Homo sapiens: one gene and its partners. The protein of the gene in region 3 interacts with the protein of the main gene of each other region in a pairwise test. Each region holds a gene or a part of one and is shown on either strand. Other genes may lie near its edges. The genes, in order: KDM6A, MCM3AP and SMAD9.

The links.
Region 1: the proteins of SMAD9 (region 3) and KDM6A interact in a two-hybrid assay, tested with the Homo sapiens proteins (one large-scale study listed by BioGRID and IntAct).
Region 2: the proteins of SMAD9 (region 3) and MCM3AP interact in a two-hybrid assay, tested with the Homo sapiens proteins (one large-scale study listed by BioGRID and IntAct).

Annotation. Positions count from the first base shown.
Region 1 is NC_000023.11:45,107,118-45,110,320, reverse strand, and holds part of KDM6A (lysine-specific demethylase 6A), read right to left. Parts: intron 2,912-3,203; coding exon 2,785-2,911; intron 243-2,784; coding exon 72-242; intron 1-71. UniProt on the Homo sapiens protein: Histone demethylase that specifically demethylates 'Lys-27' of histone H3, thereby playing a central role in histone code. Demethylates trimethylated and dimethylated but not monomethylated H3 'Lys-27'.
Region 2 is NC_000021.9:46,275,557-46,279,213, forward strand, and holds part of MCM3AP (germinal-center associated nuclear protein), read right to left. Parts: intron 2,162-3,657; coding exon 1,971-2,161; intron 1-1,970.
Region 3 is NC_000013.11:36,850,584-36,854,240, reverse strand, and holds part of SMAD9 (mothers against decapentaplegic homolog 9), read left to right. Parts: intron 1-565; coding exon 566-822; intron 823-1,723; coding exon of another isoform or gene 1,724-1,903; exon of another isoform or gene 1,904-3,657. UniProt on the Homo sapiens protein: Transcriptional modulator activated by BMP (bone morphogenetic proteins) type 1 receptor kinase. SMAD9 is a receptor-regulated SMAD (R-SMAD).

The DNA of each region.
Region 1 (3,203 bases), on a different chromosome or scaffold from region 3:
TCAGGTGGCAGAGCAAACACTGCTGCTTCATAACCCAGCTAACTATGTACTCACATGTTGATTTGACTTACTAATGTAAATTGGTCATAGACTTGCATCAGGTCCTCCATTTTGTACTGTTCTAGCACCACAAAGTTTTCCAAGTTTCCGCTTGTTTTTCGTGCACAATCTTGGCAATGTACTATGTAGGTCTTTCGTGAATTACTCTCATTAGTGACAAAAAGCAGATCAAAAACCTCCACCTGTTTTATACAAGAGAAAAACGTATTCAATAGAGATAGTGGTATTTACTGTACTGCTTTAGTATAATCATGGAATTCTACTTGAATGAAATTGTGGACAGTGATCTCTGGTTAAGAGTAGGTGGTAAGAAAAACATGGCTGTGTTTGAGAATCTTTAACAGACCAGGTTTATTTTGCACCAAATCCAAAGACATGGGTAGTAATGCATATTTAGGGGAATAATCAAAGGGAATGACATACTCATGACAACCACTGGCAAAGCCCAGTTCAAAAGTTTGATAAAGGTCAACCTATTTTTAAATCTAAAACATTAGTATACAATCAGACATAAGTGATCATTTTTATGTATTCATGAGTACAGCATGATTTTAGAAATAATACCTCTATCTTATACAGAAAGATTGATGAGTTGCTAGGGTTCAGGTAGGATAAGGAACAACACACCTAACTGGAATCTATCTGATCTCCTAATGACTCACTTTGGTCAGGCCATATGACATTTAAAAAAAAAATCAATGGATTCTATCATTTCAAATAAAGGTTGATGCTAGAATTACAGAATTTCAAGGTTTGAAATGGACCATCAACATCCTGTCTTTGGCTTATCCTTAAATTTCTTCAATGACAGAAAACTCTTATGATCCCATGTCTTCTTTTAACAGTTAACTACAATCCTAGAGTTCACCATGTTATCCATTACTGTCAACAAGCAGCAATACAAACCTAGTGACCTGAGCTAGAAAATTGGTGAGCATTCTTCAACTTGTCCTTCCACTTCTGCCATTTAATGAGGTGTCTCGCTGATTTTACCCTCTAAATATTTTTGAATTCTTTCCCTTCTTTAATATTCCCATTGCCAGGTTCTAGTCTAGGCCTTAAAATAACTTTTTTTTTTTTACAGGTACTTTATTTATTTATTTATTTATTTATTTATTTATTATTATTATTATTTTTTTAAATTATACTTTAAGTTTTAGGGTACATGTGCACATTGTGCAGGTTAGTTACATATGTATACATGTGCCATGGTGGTGCGCTGCACCCACTAACTCATCATCTAGCATTAGGTATATCTCCCAGTGCTATCCCTCCCCCCTCCCCCCATCCCACAACAGTCCCCAGAGTGTGATGTTCCCCTTCCTGTGTCCATGTGATCTCACTGTTCAATTCCCACCTATGAGTGAGAATGTGCGGTGTTTGGTTTTTTGTTCTTGCGATAGTTTACTGAGAATGATGGTTTCCAATTTCATCCATGTCCCTACAAAGGACATGAACTCATCATTTTTTATGGCTGCATAGTATTCCATGGTGTATATGTGCCACATTTTCTTAATCCAGTCTATCATTGTTGGACATTTGGGTTGGTTCCAAGTCTTTGCTATTGTGAATAATGCTGCAATAAACATACGTGTGCATGTGTCTTTATAGCAGCATGATTTATAGTCATTTGGGTATATACCCAGTAATGGGATGGCTGGGTCAAATGGTATTTCTAGTTCTAGATCCCTGAGGAATCGCCACACTGACTTCCACAATGGTTGAACTAGTTTACAGTCCCATAACTCTTAAGACCACTGCAATAGCTTATATATCGCTGTCCTTTCCAACCACTTTTCTCCCTGAAACACATATCTTACTTACCCTTAGTTGCCTGCTCAAAACCTTTTAATGGCTTCAATAACCTTGGAATATCAAATTCCTTAAAACCATTCAAGATGTGCTATAAATTAAATGCCACCTAGACTTATGAGCGGAATTTGCACAGTCTGTGTTCCAGCCAAATCGGAACACATTCAACCTTTTCTAAAACCATTTCATTTCCCTGTTCTCTTCTTGTGCCTATAGCCCATGACAGTCTACCTCCGATTCTCATCACTTTTTTAGTCTACTTGATATCATACTCTTTTTTCCAAGGATGGACTCAAATGCTAATACGTTTGTGAGTTCTTATGCCAATACTAGAAGAAAAAATTAGGTCATTTTCCCCCTCAGTGTTATCATTAACAGGAAGTCCAACTTCACATTCATCATAGTCTCATGTACATTACAATTAGTTGTTTATAATCTGTCTGCTCCAAGTAGAATTTAAGCTCCTTCATAGGAGGCACCACATCTTTGTTCCTGCACCTCTTGCAAGCCTTGGCCACACAAGATTGACAAATGTATTGTTAATTGCACCAGAGAGGACTGATAATCGATCTGCCTAGAGTTACACCAAACATCCAGTTTATTGGCATCTGTGTACATCTAGATTGTTCTTAGTTTAAAATCTCAGACTAAATTTGCTGATTATTGTCTGTTGAAGATCTACCACAAAAATGACTCTGCAGTAGATACTTTTAAGGTTAATTCACAGTGAAATATCATTATTATCACACTGAATTTTAATATAATGGCTAAGCAACAAAATTGAATCCAATGTTAATTACTATAAACTGGATTACATAAAAGTATAAAAAAGTTTTTTAAAAATAAAGAGAAACCAACAGTGGAGAGGGAAGAGGCTTTATAAAACAACTGTGGATAAAAACAATTACTTACTTCACAAATGCTACAGTAATGAGCTGGTTCTTCTTTTGTCCGCCCATGCCATATAATCTCTTTTCCTGCAGCAATGAGAGCTTCCCTCAATGTCTGACATTGCTTCAGAGTTCTTAGAAGACAATACCTATTGTGGGGGAGAAATTATTTGTGACCAGCAACTGAATATTGAATATTTTTAGCATAAAAGATATACCAACTAGAAATAATGCCAAGAGACTTGATTCTAATGTCTATGACTTCATAATTTTTCTTTCATCAATTTATCAAATATTCTCAGATTTTAAAATGACAATGCTCAGCAGGCCTGATGAAGACAATATTAAAACATTTAAAGTTGAGAAAAGTAATATCTGGATATCAAAATATAATGGTCTTAGTACATAAAAACTGACTCCCTGCTTAAATGTGAGTTGCTA
Region 2 (3,657 bases), on a different chromosome or scaffold from region 3:
ACAGTCACAGACCCTCACTGCAGACTAAGAGAAAGACCCCCGAGTCACCTCTCCAACAGTCACAGACCCTCACTGCAGATAAAAGCAGGGGAGTGTCCTCACTTTCAGCCGGAGTTTTCTAACTCCTGTAATGACCTCAATGACAAAAAATCATGGTGCAGGATGTTTACTAAAAGGATTGACTTGTAACAACTGCAAATATTCAAAATATATCACTATTCTAAAACTGTCTCAGTATTCACCATGACTTTAATATAAGAATCATATAATGGACGTTAACTGGGTTCTTACCTGAATGAGTAAACTGCTATTACACTTAAGTTACAATGTAGCTTGCAAGGAAAAGGAAATGCAACAACTTCACACTCAAAATATATACTTATTGTTTTCATGTTGAAAAATTCTAATACCTGGGCCCGGCCTGGTGGCTCACGCCTGTAATCCCAGCACTTTGGGAGGCCAAGACTGGCAGATCACCTGAGGTCGGGAGTTCGAGACCAGCCTGACCAACATGGAGAAACCCCATCTCTACTAAGAATACAAAAATTAGCCGGGCGTGGTGGCGCATGGCTGTAGTCCCAGCTACTCAGGAGGCTGAGGCAAGACAATCACTTGAACCCGGGAGGCGGACGTTGCAGTGAGCTGACGTTGCGCTCACTCTGTCATGGTACTCCACCATGGGTAACAGAGCAAGACTCCATCTCGAGGAAAAAAAAAAAAAGAAAAATTCTAATACCTAATAATAATTTTTAGAATATAAAAATCACTGTATCAATGATATGATGTTTGATGGCAGCTTTTATTACTATATGTTATTATATTAAGGAAACATGGTGATTATTCAAATTATCCACAGCTTTTAAAAAGAGGAAACTCCTATAGCTGATTTTTTTTTTCTTTTTGAGATGGAGTTTCGCTCTTGCTGCCCAGGCTGGAGTACAATGGCACAATCTCGGCTCACCGCAACCTCAGCCTCCCGGGTTCAAGCCATTCTCCTGCCTCAGCCTCCCAAGTAGCTGGGATTACAGGCATGTGCCACCACGCCCGGCTAATTTTGTCTTTTTAGTAGAGATGGGGTTTTTCCATGTTGGTCAGGCTGGTCTCGAACTCCTGACCTCAGGTGATCCACCAGCCTCGACCTCCTAAAGTGCTGGGATTACAGGCGTGAGCCACCACGCCCAGCATTTTTTTTTTTTTTTGAGACAGAATCTCACCCTGTTGTCCAGGCTGGAGTGCAGTGGCACAATCTCGGCTCACTGTAACCTCCACCTCGCCAGTTCAAGTGATTCTCCTGCCTCAGCCTCCCAGGTAGCTGGGACTACAGATGCACACCACCGCACCCAGCCTGCTTATTTATTATTTATTTATTTATTGTAGAGATGGGGGTTTTGCCATGTTGGCCAGGCTAGTCTTTAACTCCTGACCTCAGGTGGTCCCTCATGCCTCAGCCTCCCAAAGTGCTGGGATTACAGGTGTGAGCCACCATGCCCAGCCCGGCTGAAATTTAAGAGAAAAAAATTGGCTAAGAGAAGTACCTGTGTTTTTTCCTTTTATTTTTGGTCCCTGCATATATTTTTAGTGTTAATGGAATACTTACTTTTTAGTAGGTAATACATTCACACAGTTCAACATTGTAACAGTGTAAGAATGCCCTGTCCAAGACGGAGCACTCCACCATAACCTCTGCCCCTCGGAATCCCGCTCCCTCTACAGACAGGAGCCCATTCTTTTGCATCCTCCCACTACTATTTTATACATACATTAGCAAACATATTTGCACATTTATGTACACATACACGCAACACTCACTCCAAGAAGACAGGCAGACTATGAAGATCAGACACAGCATATCACAGGCTCTGAGACTCAACAGCAATAGAGCCCAATGGAAAGGAGTTGCTCCTGCCCTGATGGCACCCAAGATGACGACCTCACCAGGCCCCTAGAACCTCTGCCACCAAGTGCCATACCTTGCCGCATGATCCTGTCTCTCTGGTCAAGCAGGCGGTACTTCTCCTTGGATGTCTCAGCCACAGTGCCTATCAGGGTACTGAGGGAGAGCACACATGGCCCGAGGCCCTCGGAGCCCTCGGAGGCTGAGTCAAAAGAGTCTCCCTCGAATTGGTGGGCCTTTAGAAGACTTGGCTTCTTCACTGGAGAGCTATAAAGTAAACACCACACTGAGGGCCCTCGTCCCAGGAAGGCCTTCAGAGCATTTTCATTTCTGAACACGTCCCCTCATCTTTCAAGATTTTCTGGTCCTCTAAAGCTGAGAAACTACAAGCACTGAAATGAGATGAGTTTTGATAAGGATGGTAATGAGCACAAAAGCGTTATTCACATTACTCACTGACTTTAATATAATTTTGAAATATTTCATACTTTTGAAAAACAAAATAGCCTGGGCAACATAGGGAGACCCCATCTCTACAAAAAATTTAAAAATTAGCCGGGCATGGTGGCATGTGCCTCTAGTCCCAGCTACTCGAGAGGCTGGGGTGAGAGGATTGCTTGAGCCTGGCAGGCAGAGGTTGCAGTGAGCTGAGATTATTACACTGCTGCTCTCCAGCCTGGGTGACAGAGTGAGACTCTAACTTACCACCCCCCGAAAAAAAAAAAAAGATAGGCTCATTTAAACAGCTAAAATGAACACTTACTGATTTCTATTTCAAAGAAATAAACTCAGCATGAAAAAAGTCTTTAATATCATAAGGAAATATTAAGCCTACATGTTTTAAAACAGAAATTATTTTGGTAGAAGGACATACTAAAAGGAATCAGGCATTCTCTCTCAGCTTCCCCATTTTCTAGCTTTCATCATTTTCTGAACTTGAATGTCAAAGATTATGTCAAACCAGCAACTAAACTGCTCGTCACAAAACGGAAAGTGAGGAAAATACATTGGCCAAAAGATGAAAAGATGGATTCAGCCGGAGATCTGTCAAAGTAGGCCTGGTGTGAAAAGCAAAAGCCTTTGAGAACAGAGTTCCCCAGACAGACAAGGTAGCCAGGGCACTTCACATCACATGCCGGTTAACACAACTAACATGGCCGACCGTGTCTGCTTCACTGTGATAAGCTGCACCTGCAAAAAGTCATGCTGCCCTTCCTTTAGGAGACAGCCTTTTTTTTTTTGAGATGGGGTCTCGCTCTGTTGCCCAGTCTGGAGTGCAGTGGCGCAATCTCGGCTCACTGCAAGCTCCGCCTCCCGGGTTCACGCAGTTCTCCTGCCTCAGCCTCACAAGTAGCTGGGACTACAGGCACCTGCCACCATGCCCGGCTAATTTTTTGTATTTTTAGTAGAGATGGGGTTTCACCATATCAGCCAGGATGGTCTCAATCTCCTGACCTTGTGATCCGCCCGCCTTGGCCTCCCAAAGTGCTGGGATTACAGGCGTGAGCACTGCGCCCGGCCAGGAGACAGCTCTTCAGGAAAAAAAAAAAAAAAAAAGTAATGCTGGAAACTGCTGAAAGTGATTATTAGAAATGCATGGTTTGGCCGGGCATGCATCTCTAGTCAGGAGTTCGAGACCAGCCTGGCCAACATGGTGAAACCCCATCTCTACTAAAAATACAAAAATATTAGCTGGGCGTGGTGGAGCGCACCTGTAATCTCAGCTACTAGGGAGGCTAAGGCAGGAGAATTTCTTGAACCCA
Region 3 (3,657 bases):
TTACTGACTGGTTCTTGGGAGTGATTGTTAACATGGGTTGCAATCCACTTTTATTTTTTTATTTTTATTTATTTATTTTTTTGAGATGACATCTTGCTCTGTCACCCAGGCTGGAGTTCAGTGGCGCTACCTTGGCTCACTGCAACCTCTGCCTCCCAGGTTCAAGCAATTCTCCTGCCTGAGCCTCCCGAGTAGCTGGGATTACAGGTGCCCACCACCATGCCTGGTTAATTTTTGTATTTTTAGTAGAGAAGGGGTTTCACTGTGTTGGCCAGGCTAGTCTTGAACTCCCGACCTCAAATGATCTGCCCACGTCGGGCTTCCAAAGTGCTGGGATTACAGGCGTGAGCCACCGCACCCAGCTGCGATCCACTTTTAAATGGATTTGTGGAAAAAGCACAGATTATCATTAAACTAAGCGGCATTTAGGTCACACATCTCATTCATCTGATCAGTGATCTGACAACCTGATGGGAGAGTCACATCTCCTAGGGTTTCAGGAATCAGTGGGAGAGGCACGCTATGAAAGGGCATGTGAAGGAAGGCTGTGTTTTTGTGTCTGCAGGTGTGCACTTGTACTACGTCGGGGGAGAGGTGTATGCCGAGTGCGTGAGTGACAGCAGCATCTTTGTGCAGAGCCGGAACTGCAACTATCAACACGGCTTCCACCCAGCTACCGTCTGCAAGATCCCCAGCGGCTGCAGCCTCAAGGTCTTCAACAACCAGCTCTTCGCTCAGCTCCTGGCCCAGTCAGTTCACCACGGCTTTGAAGTCGTGTATGAACTGACCAAGATGTGTACTATCCGGATGAGTTTTGTTAAGGTAAGGAGTGCTTGCTATCACGTTATAAAATGTTCAGTGAAAAACAAAACAAAAAAGCACCCTGACTGATGTGGCAGGCAGTTGTGCGGTCAATTCTGATAGACAAAACCAATTTATTATTATTATTATTTTTTGAGACGGAGTTTCACTCTGTCACACAGGCTGGAGTGCAGTGGCATGATCTTGGCTCACTGCAACCTCTGCCTCCCGGGTTCAAGCGATTTTCCTACCTCAGCCTCCCGGGTAGCTGGGACTACAGGCACGCACCACCACGCTTGGCTGATTTCTGTATTTTTAGTAGAGACAGGGTTTCACCATATTGGCCAGAGTGGTCTTGAACTCCTGACCTTGTGATCCTCCCATCTTGGCCTCCCAAAGTGCTGGGATTACAGGCGTGAGCCACCGCGCCCAGCCCAAAACCAATTTTTTTGAATTCTATTGTTTTTAGGAGGAGTTCCTCTTTGAGTATAAACTGTCTTGTTTAGCAATTATATGAAAATTGTTACACATTACTTTTGAGGAAAAACAAGGTGGCTATTTGATTGTTTTTAATGCAGATGATAAAGTAACAACAGTAATTTTACAGGACTAGTGCAACAGAGATTTTTTCCATCCTTCCAATTGCCAAGCACTGTTATCACTCAGTGAATGTTGGTGAATTTATCTGAATTCAGTAAGATACTCTCCTTACTCTTAGAAAGCATACAGGCACATGGAGGAGATAATATTTATGAATAAGCTACAAAAATAGGCAGGGTTGGTTCTAATACAAGATAATAAACTAAGTAGTGTTATAAAGGTATAAACAATTTGGAATAGAAACGGGTGTGATTAATTCAGAGAGCAGTATATGTTCTGTTGATGAATATTTGTTGAATTTCTCATATCGAATCTTATTAAGGTTGCTATGAAGGCTGGAGAACCAAGGAAGTTTCTTAGTGGGAAGGAAAGACAACTGGGTTTGTATATGGAAGTGAAAGCCTTCAGTTTCATCACCTGCTATTTTGTCTGTTGCAAAGTACTCGCAAATGAGTCTAGTATTTCAAAATATGGGCTTATCAAAGTATCGGGGTATGTGTGACAGTTTTCTTACTGCCATGATTCCATCCAGGGAATCAGCATGGCTTGTTCCAGGCATTTTTTTCAAAGTAAATTTTATTAGCACTTTAAAATTACCATGACAAATAATTTTTCTATACTCAAATTATGTTTTTATTATCACTTTAGTAATTATTTAAAAAGTAAGAACAATATAGTTTCCAATTTTAAAAAACAGCTGCTTGAAATTATTTCTCTTTCATGGTGACAAAGCAGTTTCATTCAAATTTAGTGTTTTGAAAGCATATATTATAAAGTTATATTAACAAATAACTTCGAAATCTTTTCAAATGTTCTGTTGCTTTAGAAACGGCAGAGGGCATCATTTGAATCATACAGTTTTTTTTTTTTCCGGGTCTGTGTTTTTAAAATTAGGATGAAATGCCAATATCTCATAGGTAATTATTTCACTCTGATTAAATATAAGCTTATATAGAAATCTGATTTTCCTAATAACTAGATACATTTCTCAGATAGGCAGCATTTACATTCATAAAGCTACACAATTGACACAGAAGACAAACTGTTCCTAATACTGCAGGAACTTTTAAAATAAATACATAGTAAATATAACTATAGATCATTTTTTTTTAACATTTGAGATGAGCAGCTGTAGCTACCACTGGGCTGATGGATCAGATCTCTTTAAGGTTTCTTTCAGCTCTGATTTTTACTGATTCTAGGACTTAGTCAGTCAACAAATGTTTATTGAGCACCTGCCATGTGCAGGCCAGGCACGTGGGACATGCCAATGTTTACTCACAGATCTCTGACCTCAGGGAACCAATATTCTAGGAAGGAGAGATGGATAATAAACAACAGCCAAAACACAGAAGAAGGATGGAAAGAGAAAGTCTGGGGGCAGGGTGAAGGGAATTGGAGCACGGGGGCAGTGGAGTCATCTGCACATGAGGGTGGGCCTCATTGAAAAGGTGACAGGTCAGCAGAGACTGGAAGGAGACATGGAGCTAGGCCCAGGGACCCCTGGAGGAAGAGCAGAAGAAGAGGGAAGAGCAAGGCAACAGCATACACCTGGAAACTCTGAAGAGCAGGCAGGCCAGTGTGGCTGGGGCCTAATGAGCAGGGGAAGTGAGATGAGAGCAGCCGCAGGGAACCATAGCAAGGCCTCCTGAACCTCTGCTACGAGTTCAGCGGTGACTGTAAGGAGGTGGCGAGCTTTTGCAGGGATCAGAGCAGAGCATTTTCATGATCTAACTTCTATTCTTAAAGGATCGCCCTGCCTGCTGTGTGGAGGATAGATATTATACAGGCAAGGTTGCAAGTAGGGAAACCACTTAGGAGGCTATAGTAATAGTCAGGTGAGAGTCGCCCCCACCTGGAGGGATCCAGTACAGCTGTGAGAAGTGGAAGGATTCTGAATTGTGAAGGCGGATCAGGCGTGGGAGAAAAAGAGGAAGATGAAGTTAGTTGCCTTCAATCAAGATGGAGAAGACGCAGGTGTAATTGAGATGTCCGTTGCATTCAAGTGGAGTTGCTGAGTAGCCAGTTCGATATAAGAGTCTGGATTCGGGGAGAGAGGTTTGGGCTTGAAATACAAATTTGGGAATTGTCTGCAAAGGGACCGTATTTAACTCCCTAAGTGTGGATGAGAACACCAAAGGTTTGAGTTTAAACTGAGAAGAGCCGGGCGTGGTGGCTCATGCCTGTAATCCCAGCACTTTGGGAGGCTAAGGTGGGTGGATTGCTTGAGGTCAGGAGTTCAAGACTAGCCTGGCC